Linked DNA regions of Homo sapiens. The protein of the gene in region 1 purifies or fractionates together with the protein of each later gene. This does not show direct contact. Each region holds a gene or a part of one and is shown in the gene's direction. Other genes may lie near its edges.

Evidence for each region.
Region 2: the proteins of PBXIP1 (region 1) and B3GAT3 purify together in Homo sapiens (affinity purification with mass spectrometry; 4 studies listed by BioGRID and IntAct, with this or other methods). This does not show direct contact.

Annotation. Positions count from the first base shown.
Region 1 is NC_000001.11:154,953,080-154,960,056, reverse strand, and holds the start of PBXIP1 (pre-B-cell leukemia transcription factor-interacting protein 1), read left to right. Parts: upstream 1-3,957; 5' UTR 3,958-3,988; intron 3,989-6,299; 5' UTR 6,300-6,335; coding exon 6,336-6,386; intron 6,387-6,977. Other genes in the region: PYGO2 (pygopus homolog 2), read left to right, coding at 211-1,278. UniProt on the Homo sapiens protein: Regulator of pre-B-cell leukemia transcription factors (BPXs) function. Inhibits the binding of PBX1-HOX complex to DNA and blocks the transcriptional activity of E2A-PBX1.
Region 2 is NC_000011.10:62,618,967-62,626,017, reverse strand, and holds the start of B3GAT3 (galactosylgalactosylxylosylprotein 3-beta-glucuronosyltransferase 3), read left to right. Parts: upstream 1-4,031; 5' UTR 4,032-4,070; coding exon 4,071-4,152; intron 4,153-4,198; exon of another isoform or gene 4,199-4,902; coding exon of another isoform or gene 4,903-4,963; intron 4,964-5,346; coding exon 5,347-5,521; intron 5,522-7,051. Other genes in the region: GANAB (neutral alpha-glucosidase AB isoform 3 precursor), read left to right, coding at 94-203. UniProt on the Homo sapiens protein: Glycosaminoglycans biosynthesis. Involved in forming the linkage tetrasaccharide present in heparan sulfate and chondroitin sulfate.

The DNA of each region.
Region 1 (6,977 bases):
TCCTGACCTCGTGATCTGCCCGCCTTGGCCTCCCAAAGTGCTGGGATTACAGGCGTGAGCCACCGCACCTGGCCTGTGGTCCATATTGATTTTAGACCTGAGCTGCCCACAGTATCAGCCTCCAAAATGTGTATTGTGTTGGTAGTGCTCTCTTGGTTTAGCTCTGTGTTTCCCTCCATGACCCTCTTTCCCTCAACTGTTTCTCACTAGGGCCCTGCATACTCACATCTGACGGAGTTTGCACCACCCCCAACTCCCATGGTGGATCACCTGGTTGCATCCAACCCTTTTGAAGATGACTTCGGAGCCCCCAAAGTGGGGGTTGCAGCCCCTCCATTCCTTGGCAGTCCTGTGCCCTTCGGAGGCTTCCGTGTGCAGGGGGGCATGGCGGGCCAGGTACCCCCAGGCTACAGCACTGGAGGTGGAGGGGGCCCCCAGCCACTCCGTCGACAGCCACCCCCCTTCCCTCCCAATCCTATGGGCCCTGCTTTCAACATGCCCCCCCAGGGTCCTGGCTACCCACCCCCAGGCAACATGAACTTTCCCAGCCAACCCTTCAACCAGCCTCTGGGTCAAAACTTTAGTCCTCCCAGTGGGCAGATGATGCCGGGCCCAGTGGGGGGATTTGGTCCCATGATCTCACCCACCATGGGACAGCCTCCCAGAGCAGAGCTGGGCCCACCTTCTCTGTCCCAACGATTTGCTCAGCCAGGGGCTCCTTTTGGCCCTTCTCCTCTCCAGAGACCTGGTCAGGGGCTCCCCAGCCTGCCGCCTAACACAAGTCCCTTTCCTGGTCCGGACCCTGGCTTTCCTGGCCCTGGTGGTGAGGATGGGGGGAAGCCCTTGAATCCACCTGCTTCTACTGCTTTTCCCCAGGAGCCCCACTCAGGCTCCCCGGCTGCTGCTGTTAATGGGAACCAGCCCAGTTTCCCCCCGAACAGCAGTGGGCGGGGTGGGGGCACTCCAGATGCCAACAGCTTGGCACCCCCTGGCAAGGCAGGTGGGGGCTCCGGGCCCCAGCCTCCCCCAGGCTTGGTGTACCCATGTGGTGCCTGTCGGAGTGAGGTGAACGATGACCAGGATGCCATTCTGTGTGAGGCCTCCTGCCAGAAATGGTTCCACCGTGAGTGCACAGGCATGACTGAGAGCGCCTATGGGCTGCTGACCACTGAAGCTTCTGCCGTCTGGGCCTGCGATCTCTGCCTCAAGACCAAGGAGATCCAGTCTGTCTACATCCGTGAGGGCATGGGGCAGCTGGTGGCTGCTAACGATGGGTGACGCTGGTGAAGTGGCCCAGGGAAGTGCACATGTCTCTCCCTGCTCTTCCAGGGTGATTTTTTTGATGTTTGGCTCTTGGTCCTTGTTTCCACTGGCTTTCCATCCCCATGGGGCAGAAACAGTGGCTCCTGGGAGCAGAAAAGGAATTGAGGTGGGCAGGCAGAAGAGCCTGGATTGCTCACTGTTTTGGGAAACTTACATGTTGAGATCTACAGAGATCCAGGAAACCAAAGCCCTGCTGAGCAGAGCCATTTTGTGGCTATTTCTGGAGGCCCAGGAGTGTGGCTGCAAGAGAAAAGGGGCTGGAGGAAGATCCGGAGGGCAGGGGTGTTCCCTCTGCTGATGATGGATGCCCCTAACACCTGTGCCTAACACCCCTACTGAACCCCACAGCTCCAGCCTTAGTTTTTGGAGTCAAGTGTTAAAGGTTTCTGGCCAGAGGAATTGGGGTCTTGCCATCCCTGCAATAGCCCTTTTATGGGCTCTGGGAGACAGCTTTAGGGAATAAATGGGGATTTTCCCCTTTTTCTACCCACTCCTTTGCTTCCTCCAAGACTTACCCAACTCCTTCCCCCTCAGAGAACCAAATAGCCTGAGGAAGCAGGAGAGTTCCTGGTTATGGCAGTTTCTTGGTGATTTGGGGCTTCAAGACAGTAGGTGAGAGATGCTGTCAGGACGTATCTTCTTCATACCAAAGTCACTGGTCCTTTCTCAGCCTCTCTCGTGCTTTTCTCCTAATGACCATATTTTTGCCAAAAATTGGGATATGTTATCTGACAGACCAGAATATTTGAAGTTTGGGCTGTCCTGAAAGTCTGGACTTTGGTGGTACCCTCCTCCCCCAGCCCATCTGTTGCACATTATACTCCGTGTGTTCTTCAACTTTCGGCGCCCTTATTCCCCTGCCTTCCTGGCTTGATTGAAGGAAAGCTTGAAAAGGCGCAGAGCCCTATACCTCATTTCCTCCATGATAAAAGGATCCAAGTGAGGCCCTGTCACAGCCTGTGGGTAGGGGATGCGGCGGGATCCTCATTGCCATGGTACTCAAAGGTAGAAGAGCCTGGAGTTTGTTGCTTCTCTTTGCTATTCTTTCATATCCTCTTGGGCCTGGTGATTAATTAGCAATTCTCATTCCTCTCAGCCAAAGGCCTGCACTGGGCTTTATTTGTCTTTTTTTATTTTTTAAGCACTGCCTGCCAGAGATGGGCCTGGGGCCTGATGAGGACCTTAGCGCTGCTCGTTCTCCTTTTCTGTTCATGCACACATTCCTCCATGGGGTGGGGAAGGCAGGCATGGGGTGTGGCCCTCGGAGAAGTTAGGAGTCCCCCAGCTCAAGATACAGTGGCAAAGACCTAGTGGTCCCCTACCCCCACTTCTCTCAGTTCCTGGCATGAGGAGAGAAGACCCTGCTCTGGTGGAGCTGACAACCTTTGAGGCTGGGAGGAGAGCAGCCTCTGGGCATCGTTCCCAGTGTCCCTCACACTAAAACGGCGTAGATGGCAACCCCCCACCCCCACCCCGCTGCTCAACTCTTGTGTTTGTTGTTCTGTTTGCCCCATTTATCTGTTGCTGTTTTTGTGTTGTCTTCCCCTGCTCCGCATTTTGTAAAATGGCCCCTGGGGGAGTGTTTTTGCTGGATCTGCTCCCTCTCGCTCTCTCACTCCACTACTTTTTGGAACAAAGTGATGGCAGAATGCGGTGGTGGTGGGGGTCTTTTGTACTGTTGGATTAATAAAATGATTTTAAAATCCCAGACAAGGACTCCTTGCTGTTGCTGTGTGAAAAGGCTGGAATGAGCCGCTGTCACTGCTGGGTAGGGTGCTTAGGGGTTGAGGATATGTATGCTCCCCAGGGTCCCTGGGAGTGGGAATGGCAGATTTGGCCCCTGAGCTGACCCTGGTATAAGCTGCTGAGCCAAGGGAGGCCTGTGTTTCCCCGCCCATCCCCCTGTGTCTCCACTGTGAGAAACTGAGTTTCCTTTTTGAGCATATTCCTGGGCCAGGCCTGGAGCCAGGCGGATTTGGCACCACAGCCTCTGGAAGACAAGTGCTTGAGCTCTTCTGGGTTTAGCACCCCACCCACCTCCCAGTTGTTTGGGTTAGGGAGCAAGTGTCGCTCTAAGGGTGAGGGGAGGGGCTGCTTCTGTCCTAGCAAATTTCATTTTGGGATGTTTTTCAGATCGTTCCCGTCCCCCAACCGTTTTTTAAAGTAGCAATGGCATCTTTTAAGCAGTCTGTTTTGGAGCAGATTGGGGAGAATGGCAGGAGGGCTATTTCCACACCCTGGATTTGCGACCTGTCCCTCTCCCTTCCCCCATCTCACAGCTGTCTCTGTCTATCCTGGGGCCAACCTGGCCCCTTGTCTTCGTCATCTCAGAAGACGGCACCGTCTGCTTTTCTCTCAGTTTGTGGGGGTTCCCTCTAGAAACTGTTTAGACACTGGGAAAGAAGGGCAGGAAACTCAGGATTCGGTTAGCTGGGACCCCGGTCGCCCACCAGGAGGTAAGCCCAGGTTTAGGGCCGTGTCGCTAGACCTCCCTTCCCCTCCCCTGGCTCTCAATTCCTGCTCTTATTGGCCAAAAGTTTCCGCCCCCTTGGGGAAGTTGACTTTTCATTGGTCAGTTTCTGGTCACATGATTTTCTTCTCGGGCTGCAAACAAAGGGAAGCCTGCAACAAGTTAAGCTGAAGACCGAAGCAAGAGCTGGTTCAGGTAATGCCTTAGCTGGGAAGGGGTCCACAGATTCGCTTTGAAGGGGGTGGAATAAGGAAAAGGGAAGGCGGAACTAATCTAGAAGGAATGAGCTGCTTTTCATTTCTGGGCTGGGGGAGGAAGGCCAGGTGCCGACGCTAACACAACAGGAACTTGCTCTGGGTACCCCAGGCAAGTGGCCCTAGATCCTTTGCTTTAGCGGTTTGGAGGAGCAACTGTTAGAGGAGTTTAAATTAACTAGAGGCGAGACTTCCTAGCTTTATGCTGAGTGGGAGAGCTCCCCCTTTAGCTGTTTTTTAGAAATAGCAGAAGTCTCTGTCATAATCCTTACAGGAGGTGTTTGTTGAATCCTGCCTGAATGAAAAGAAGGGGGTGGAGGGAGGGAGTGGAGGTGGGTTTTCTTCCAGAAGGTCGATGAAAAGAAAAAGATCTGGAAACACAGCAGGGAAGGGTGGAGATTAGACAGCAGAAGGAACTTCCTAATAAGGCAGTGAGATGCTGGCTTGGGAGAAGAGGTGTTTTTTTGAACCCTGGGTTAACCTAACCAAGAAAGAGGTATCAGGGTTTGGAACCCAGAGTATAGGAGTTTCAGAGTGTCTCCTATTTGGGTCTCATAAGTATTTGTTTTGTTGACCCAAATACCTTTGCTGGTTTCCATGGAGACAGTGGGTCTGACATCACTGTGGTTGCCATGGTGCCTGGTTCTAGAGGACCTGAGCAGGCTGCACACACAGCTAGGGATAAACAGGGACTTCAGCCCAAGCTGCTGCCACTTCCTTCCTGCCACCACCTGTTAACAGTCAGCAACTGGGGATGGGGAGATGATAACAAGGGCGGGGGTGGAGCCACAAGCGGAAGGCTGAACAGCCATGGCTCTATGGATACTTACAGATGCATGCCAGGGTGTCCTGTTGGATTTGGTACAGGGAGGTCATTGCAGCCATTCTCCTGTCTCCGTGTGGAATGGGTGCATGTGTCTGGGAGGATGGGCATTGGGAAAGACCTATCCAGGACTTGGATCTTGACTGGCAGGAGCCACAGGAGGTTACTTAGGGCACCACGCAGGACTTGAAAACAGCTCAAACAGAAGGGGATAATGTGGTTGGTTTCAAAGGTAGAACTGCCATACTCTCCCAGCCTCACTTCCCTTTTCCTGAGTTTTCTTATAAAGTGCTCGGGAAGCAGTCATTTATCCTGTTCTGAGGGATCACAATCCAGTACTCTTGAGAGGTCAGCTCATCTATCCTTCCACCTTTATGCCTGGTCCCAACAGGAGCTGCCTGAGGGAACTGTTTTAGCCTTGGATGAAGGGGCGGATCCCTCTCTTCTTACCCTGCTTTGTGTCAGTCAGGCTTTGGAAACTGGAGTGATTCCCTCCCCTATCCCTGTCAAGTCAGAGCAGATTAACCGGGTGCAGGACCATAGCCCTGATTTTTGTCTATTTTTTGCAAGCTATAAAGTGATGTATATATACATGATAGTTGCCATAAATCCATTTTCCCAGTCACCTTCAAGTTCCCTAAGACCAAACTCTGGCGATTACTAAGAAGGTAAACAGAATTTAGGATGAAGACTGAGAGTGATGAGGAGACTTATAAAAGGTGCATCCAGGTGGATCTAAGCTATGCCAGTGGCTCTTAACCCTGGCTGCGCATGAGAATCATTTGAGTGGTTTTTTAAAAGACCCACAGCCGGGCCTACCCCCCAACTCAATTGAATCAAAATCTTAGGTGATTCCAATGTGCAGCCAAGATTGAGAACCACTGAACTAGACCATACCAAGGACTTATGCTGGGCAAGTGGTGGGACACTTAGGGCTGAAGGAGGCCATTGAGTCTTCCCTTCCAGGTCCTGGGGGAGAAGGTAGTGATTGTGTAGGTACCTGGTGTTGTGAAGGGAGGGCTGTGTTGTTTCCCTGCTCTTCTTATTAACAAGTCTTCTTATTGGCAAGTTGAGTCTGTCAACCTTGCTGGGCTTCATCTTCCCTGACTCAAATGTCAGGGGGCTGGACTGGAATTCCCCAGAGCCTTTCCAGCCTATGCTACTTTGACCTTTCAAGGTCAGTTCAGTTTTCCAAGGCCCTGTTGGTCCCTGGAAGAGGCTGGCTTCTCTGTGGGTGTTGGCAGATTCTGATTTGCAAGGCAAATACTGCTTAGAAGAGCTGGGGTGTCAGGGAGAGAAGGACTGGAACCAGGCTTGGTTCTGGAGGCTGCTGCCCAGCACTTGAACCTTGGAACCCAGCCAAGGCTGCTTTCTGCATTCTGCCCCTCCTGAAGGGAGCTCCCATCCTTAAGAGAGCTTTCTTCTGCAGGTGGCAGCCACAGCAGCCTCAGGGACCTCAGCAACTATGGCCTCCTGCCCAGACTCTGATAATAGCTGGGTGCTTGCTGGCTCCGAGGTAGGAAGAGCGGGCCTGGGAACCATGGGGGTGGGGTTGGGGGGTGTTTCTGCAGTGCTGGGCTTCTTTCTTGGTGGGTCCTTTTCCTTAGTCCTGATGGTCACCTACATCACTTCCTGCTGGCTGTTAGAGGAATTCCAGTAGCAGGAAGAAGTAGATCAGGCCCCAGGGGTCAGGTGTTGGCACTTGGACCATGCCATGAAGGAAGGGACCAGTTGGGTAAGCTGAGACAAGTAGGGATGGATTTCGAATGGAGAGACCAATGTGAACAAAGGTCCTGAGGCGATAGTGGGGAACGCCATGCTGGGGGAGACTGTGGGACACCCATGGGTGATGTGGAGACGTGGGTTGGAGCCAGTGTTGGAGTGAGGTTGGGGACAGAGCCTGGGAACCCCTGGAAGAGACCGGAAGAGCCTGGCTGAGGCCTTCAGGCCTCATCCTGATGGGAAATCAGTGTGGGGCTTTGGGTTAGAGGGATCAGGACAATCATTGTCTCAGGCAGAGGGTGAAGCCACTGTGCATGCTGGGTGGGAACAGGGAGAGAGTGTTTCAAAGACCCCCTGCAGCAGTCCAGGTAGCAGCTGGTGGGGC
Region 2 (7,051 bases), on another chromosome or scaffold:
GGGCAGGTTTAGGGATGCCCTTGCCTGTAGGAACGTTGTTGTTATGCTATAGCCCATTGGTATGACTATGGCACTCTTTTATTCCTCCTCCAGGATCTCCAGAAAGCCGCCTGTCCTTCCAGCATGACCCTGAGACCTCTGTGTTGGTCCTGCGCAAGCCTGGCATCAATGTGGCATCTGATTGGAGTATTCACCTGCGATAACCCAAGGGATGTTCTGGGTTAGGGGGAGGGAAGGGGAGCATTAGTGCTGAGAGATATTCTTTCTTCTGCCTTGGAGTTCGGCCCTCCCCAGACTTCACTTATGCTAGTCTAAGACCCAGATTCTGCCAACATTTGGGCAGGATGAGAGGGCTGACCCTGGGCTCCAAATTCCTCTTGTGATCTCCTCACCTCTCCCACTCCATTGATACCAACTCTTTCCCTTCATTCCCCCAACATCCTGTTGCTCTAACTGGAGCACATTCACTTACGAACACCAGGAAACCACAGGGCCCTTGTCGCCCCTTCTCTTTCCCTTATTTAGGAGCCCTGAACTCCCCCAGAGTCTATCCATTCATGCCTCTTGTATGTTGATGCCACTTCTTGGAAGAAGATGAGGGCAATGAGTTAGGGCTCCTTTTCCCCTTCCCTCCCACCAGATTGCTCTCCCACCTTTCATTTCTTCCTCCAGGCTTTACTCCCCTTTTTATGCCCCACCGATACACTGGGACCACCCCTTACCCCGGACAGGATGAATGGATCAAAGGAGTGAGGTTGCTAAAGAACATCCTTTTCCCTCTCATTCTACCCTTTTCCTCTCCCCGATTCCTTGTAGAGCTGCTGCAATTCTTAGAGGGGCAGTTCTACCTCCTCTGTCCCTCGGCAGAAAGACGTTTCCACACCTCTTAGGGGATGCGCATTAAACTTCTTTTGCCCCCTTCTTGTCCCCTTTGAGGGGCACTTAAGATGGAGAAATCAGTTGTGGTTTCAGTGAATCATGGTCACCTGTATTTATTGCTAGGAGAAGCCTGAGGGTGGGGGGAGATGATCATGTGTGCTCGGGGTTGGCTGGAAGCCCTGGGTGGGGGGTTGGGGGAGGACTAATGGGGAGTCGGGGAATATTTGTGGGTATTTTTTTTACTTCCTCTTGGTTCCCAGCTGTGACACGTTTTGATCAAAGGAGAAACAATAAAGGGATAAACCATAAATAACTGGTGGTAGTCTGGATTCTAGTTCTAGCCTGAGCCACAGACCCTAGAAGCCTAGAGACCTTACATTTGCTTTCCTTTTTTTTTCTTTTTTGAGACTGAGTCTCACTCTGTTGCCCAGGCTGGAATGCAATGGCATGATCTGGGCTCATTGCAACCTCTGCCTCCCAGGTTCAAGCAGTTCTCGTGCCTCAACCTCCCGAGTCGCTGGGACTACAGGCATGCGCCACCATGCCCAGCTAATTTTTGTATTTTTATTAGAGATGGGGTTTCACCATGTTGGCCAGGCTGGTCTGGAACTCCTGACCTCAGGTGATCCGCCTGCCTCGGCCTCCCAAAGTGCTGGAATTAAAGGAGTGAGCCACTGCGCCCTGGGTCTTTTTTTTTTTTTTTTTTTTTTTGAGACAGAGTGTCGCCAGGCTGGAGTACAGTGTGTGATCCTGGCTCGTTGCAACCTCTGCCTCCTGGGTTCAGGCAGTTCTCCCACCTCAGCCTCCTTAATAGCTGGGATTACGGGCACCTGCGACCATGGCCAGCTTCATTTTTGTATTTTTAGTAGAGATGGGGTTTCGCCATGTTAGCCATGCTGATCTTGAACTCCTGACCTCAGGTGATCTGCCCGCCTTGGCCTCCCAAAGTGCTGGGATTACAGGCGTGAGGCACCATGCCTGGCCATGGGCCTTACATTTTCATTTGGCTTCAGCATAAGCATCCTTTTTGGGTTTTTTTTTTTTTTTTTTGAGATGGAGTCTCACTGTTGCCCAGGCTGGAGTGCAATGGTGTGATCTCGGCTCACTACAACCTCTGCCTCCCAGGTTCAAGCGATTCTCTTGCCTCAGCCCCCAAGTAGCTAGGACTACAGGCACCTGCTACCACGTCTGGCTGATTTTTGTATCTTTAGTAGAGATGGGGTTTCACCATGTTGTCTCGAACTCCTGGCCTCAAGTGATCCACCTGCCTCGGCCTTCCAAAGTGCTGGGATTACAGGGATGAGCCACTGTTCCCGGCCAGCATGAGCATCCTTGATTTCAGCAAAATGAGCAAGTGCAAGCCTTCCTTGGGTTGCTAGATATTTTCGTAGAAGAGCCCAGCAAGATCATCACATTTTAGTAGGCCTAGTTAGTAAGTGGTGATCAGAGCCAATGGAGTCCCTCTTGGATAGAAATAGCCATAAGGTCAGATAGCTGTTTCTCAAACTAAACTTTTGGAGGATGTCGGGGGTTGAGGAGACATAGTTTCGCTCTATTGCTCAGGCTGGAGTGCGGGGAGTGCTGTGGTATGATCCTGGCTCATTGCAGCCTTGACCTCCCAGGCTTCTAAAGTTCTGGGATTACAGGCATCGATCACTGTGCCCAACCTAGAGGCTTCTGCTTGTAGCTAACAGCACTTTTGTTTTTGTTTTTGTTTTTGAGACGGAGTCTCCCTCAGTCGCCCAGGCTGGAGTGCAGTGGTGCGATCTCGGCTCTTGGCAAGCTCTGCTTCCCGGGTTCACGCCATTCTCCTGCCTCAGCCTCCTGAGTAGCTGGGACTGCAGGCGCCCGCCACTACACCCTGCTAATTTTTTTGTGTTTTTTAGTAGAGACGGGGTTTCACCGTGTTAGCCAGGATGGTCTCGATCTCCTGACCTCGTGATCCGCCTGTCTCGGCCTCCCAAAGTGCTGGGATTACAGGCGTGAGCCACCGCGCCCAGCTGCTAACAGCACTTTTTAAAGTTTCCCATTGTTTTAGTGACAGGAAGTATACTGTTCCCCCTTCCCCTCATTTTGTAGACTGACCACAAGTCAGAGATTATTTTACCAGAAACTTTTTTTGGGGGGTTATTTTTTTTTTGAGACGGTCTCACCCAGTCACCCAAGCTGGAGTGCAGTGGCATGATCACGGCTCACCACAGCCTCAGCCTCCCATGTCAGCCTCCCAAGTAGCTGGGACTGTAGGCCCGCGCCATCACACCCAGCTAATTTTTGTGTTTTTTTTGTAGAGACGGGGTTTTGCCTTGTTGCCCAGGCTGATCTGAAACTCCTGGGCTTCTAAAGTGCCAGGATTACAGGCATGAGCCACTGGGCCGGGCCCTTTTTTTTTTTTTTAAAGGAAAAATGAGAAGGATGGCTTGTGCTTGTGAGGAGGAAGGGGATGCATTCATGGAATTCCCCAGCTCAGGAACTATTTCCAATCAATTTCCTGGTAGTTAAAACACTTCCTTGGCACCCCTGTTGTCATCTGTTGAAGAAATGTGGGCCAGAGGACACACTAGAGATGCTGGAATCGGGTGTCCAGAAAGGACACAAAACTGCCCTGTGGCAATGACATAATTTTTGTCAACTTTGGTTTCTTATCTATCTCAAAGTATTATAGTGAGGATTCCAGGAGAGACACCCAGAGGATCATGTGGTGGGCCTTAGATTTCATTCGTGTAATAAGTATTGAGCAACAGCTATTGGGTGGCGTGACTGACTGGATGGATGAATAAGGTGAAGATCTGGGCGCCAGGACTGGCTTTCTCAGGCAATTCCGTGATGAGGGGGCGGGTCTCGAGGTAGGTACCACGTGCACCTACTCGAGATTCTGCACCTACCCGGGGTTTTGACTGCCGGCCACGCGAGTTTGGCACGCCGGATGTGACGTCACCACCCGGTGGTTCCCGGAACCTGGCGGTGGGACCGGAAATCAAGTCTACAAGGCGGGGGGGTGCACAGATGACCGGAAGCGTGCCCTGGCGGCGCTGCCAGCCCCAGCTGGGAGCTGGTAGGGGAGTGCGAGGAAGGCGGGACGCAGGGCGGAGCCGCTGCAGGGGCGGGGCCTGCGGACAGGAGCCGGGGTTTGGGGCGGGAACCCCTCGTCCCCTGCAGACCCCGCCTGCTCGGGCGCGGGCGGCGGCGCGGCCATGAAGCTGAAGCTGAAGAACGTGTTTCTCGCCTACTTCCTGGTGTCGATCGCCGGCCTCCTCTACGCGCTGGTACAGCTCGGTGAGCGGGGCGGGGCGGGGGTGCGGCGGGCTGGCCCGAGGGCGCCCGCCGCCGTGCATCCCGCCCTGGGGATGAACCCCCGGCAAACACCATTCATCCGCTCGGCCCTCCGGACAGCTCTGCGGCCTCAGGCGCACTGCCCTCTATAGAACGCACCGCGGCTACCCGCCGCACCTCGGATGAAATCCAGACTCCTTCCCAGAGCCTGCAAGGCCCCGCATGATCCTGCTGCCGTCCGCCTCTCCCAACCCCATTTCCACCCCTCTCCCTCGCTCTGCTGCAGCCAGACTGGCTTGCTGACAGTTTCTCGAAAACCCCACGCTCATTACTCTCTCAAGCACTTAACTTGTTCCCTCTGCTTGGGGTGCTTTGCTTCCAGCGTTTCCCGGGCTGCCTCTTTCTCATCCTTCAGGTCTTAGCTCAAATGTCACCTCCTCAGAGAGGCCTTCCCTGACCACCATAGCTAAAGTTACCATTCTTAATTCCATTCCCTTTTATTCTCTATCCTGATTATTTTCTTCATGGCCCCATCACAGTTTGTAATAATGTTATTAATTTGTTTCTTTGCTTAGTGTCTGCTTCCTCCACTAAACAGAAAGCTCGATGAGGGCAGGGACTGTGTCTGTTTTGTTCCCTGCTGTATCCCCAGCACCTAAGGCAGTGCCTCCTAGGAAGAGTATTCAATAAATATTTATCCTACGATGGAATCAATGAATTTAACAATGAGTCTTTGGTCACCTAGCCAAGGGAATGGATCGAACCCTGCCCCTTATGCAAAGATTTAGGGACAGTGCCACTGCGTTATCCTCAGGTATTTGAAAGACTGTCCAAAAGGGGTTCCATAGTGTAATGGTTAGTTGGCACCTTGGACTCTGAAAAGACTGTCCTGTTTAAGGACATGAGCTTGTTAGAAGCCCAGAAGGCAAAATTAGGACCAGCAGGTAGAAAAGATGGAATCAGCTCAATATCCAACATAAAATTGTAACAATGGAATTTATTAAAGTTGGAGAGGGTCTGCTGCTTGAGGCAGTGAGTTTCCCACACGAGAGGTATAGAAAAGGCTACTAGGGAAGTCATAAGGTGATACCTGCATTGGTTAGGAATTAATGAGACGATTACGGCCCTTTGGGATGCTGAACATTCTGCGGTTCTCTGTCCCCACCTTCTTTCCCCATTAATGCTTCCTGGGACCAGGCCAGCCATGTGACTGCCTTCCTCCCCTGCGGGCAGCAGCCGAGCAGCTACGGCAGAAGGATCTGAGGATTTCCCAGCTGCAAGCGGAACTCCGACGGCCACCCCCTGCCCCTGCCCAGCCCCCTGAACCCGAGGCCCTGCCTACTATCTATGTTGTTACCCCCACCTATGCCAGGTATGGGCTCTGGTGCACTCAAGAGGTCTGCGTTGTCCAAGAAGTTGGAGTTGATGATGAGGAGTTTGGGGAGGCACTGGGCTAGGAGTTGTTCCTCAAACTAGAGCATGCCAAAGACAGGATAAATGAACCACATTTATACTCAAATATTTGTGGGAAAATAGTTCTTTTTCAGGCTGGGTGTGGTGGCTCACGCCTGTAATCCCAGCACTTTGGGAGGCCGAGGCGGGTGGATCACCTGAGGTCAGGAGTTCGAGACCAGCCTGGCCAACATGGCAAAACCCCGTCTCTACTAAAAATACAAAATTAGCCAGGCGTGGTGGCGCATGCCTATAATCCCAGCTACTGGGGAGGCTGAGGCAGGAGAATCCCTTGAACCTGAGAGGCGGAGGTTGCAGTGAGCTGAGAGTGCGCTATTGCACTCCAGCCTGGGCAACAAGAGTGAAACTCCATCTCAAAAACAAAACAAAACAAAAGAAAAAAGAAAAAAAATAGTTCTTTTTCTAGAAGGAAAATACAAAATTTCTACCAAATTATAAGATAGAACAATAACATTTCAAAGAAATTTTGAGCTTGGCAGTGAATTAACTCTCTCTCCTTAGGGACCGTTTGGCAAGAAAGTTAAAACCCCCTGATTAAAGTTGAAAGGGCTTGTCTGGGCGCAGTGGCTCACGCCTGTAATCCCAGCACTTTGGGAGCCCGAGGCTGGCGGATCGCCTGAGCTCAGGAGTTTGAGACCAGCCTGGGCAACATGGTGAAACTCTTGTCTCTGAAAAAAAAAAAAAAAAAAAAAAAAAGTTAGCTAGGCGTGATGGTGCATGCCTGTAATCTCAGCTACTCTGGAGGCTGAGGTGGGAAGATTGCTTGATCCTGGGCGGCGGAGGTTGCAGTGAGTGGAGATCATGCAGCCTGGGCGACAGAGAGAGCCCATTTCAAAAAAAAAAAAGTTGAAAGTGCTTGGCCTGATAGTCATACTAGGGTCCAGAAATAGTTATACCAGCTGTTACTTACAGTGTGTTTACTCTCTAGCAGGCACTGTATTTAGTGATTTACATTTGCTTTTGTTTTAAATCAAATGTAATTGGTTTTACTAATAAAACCAATTGGGGAATGTGGTTTTGGATCTGTAGCCATAAGGGTGTTAATACATCTTCTGGGAATCAGATGGCTGTCCCATTCACGCATAGGAAGCTCTAGACCCCACCTGCGACATGCACACACAACCAGCCCTGGGACAGGCAGGTAGATCTGAAGGATAAAGAAGTACAGAAGAGGCCAAGCCCCACGTTCCACATTCCTGGTTTGTTCCTTTTTTTTTTTTCTTCCCCCCGCCTCCCCGCAACACCGAGATGGAGTCTTGCTCTGTTGCCCAGGCTGGAGTGCAGTGGTGTGATCTTGGCTCACTGCAACCTCCACCTCCCGGGTTCAAGCGATTCTCCTGCCTCAGCCTCCCGAGTAGCTGGGATTACAGGCGTGCACCACCACACCAGGCTAATTTTTTTTTTTTTTTTCCCGAGATGGAGTCTCACT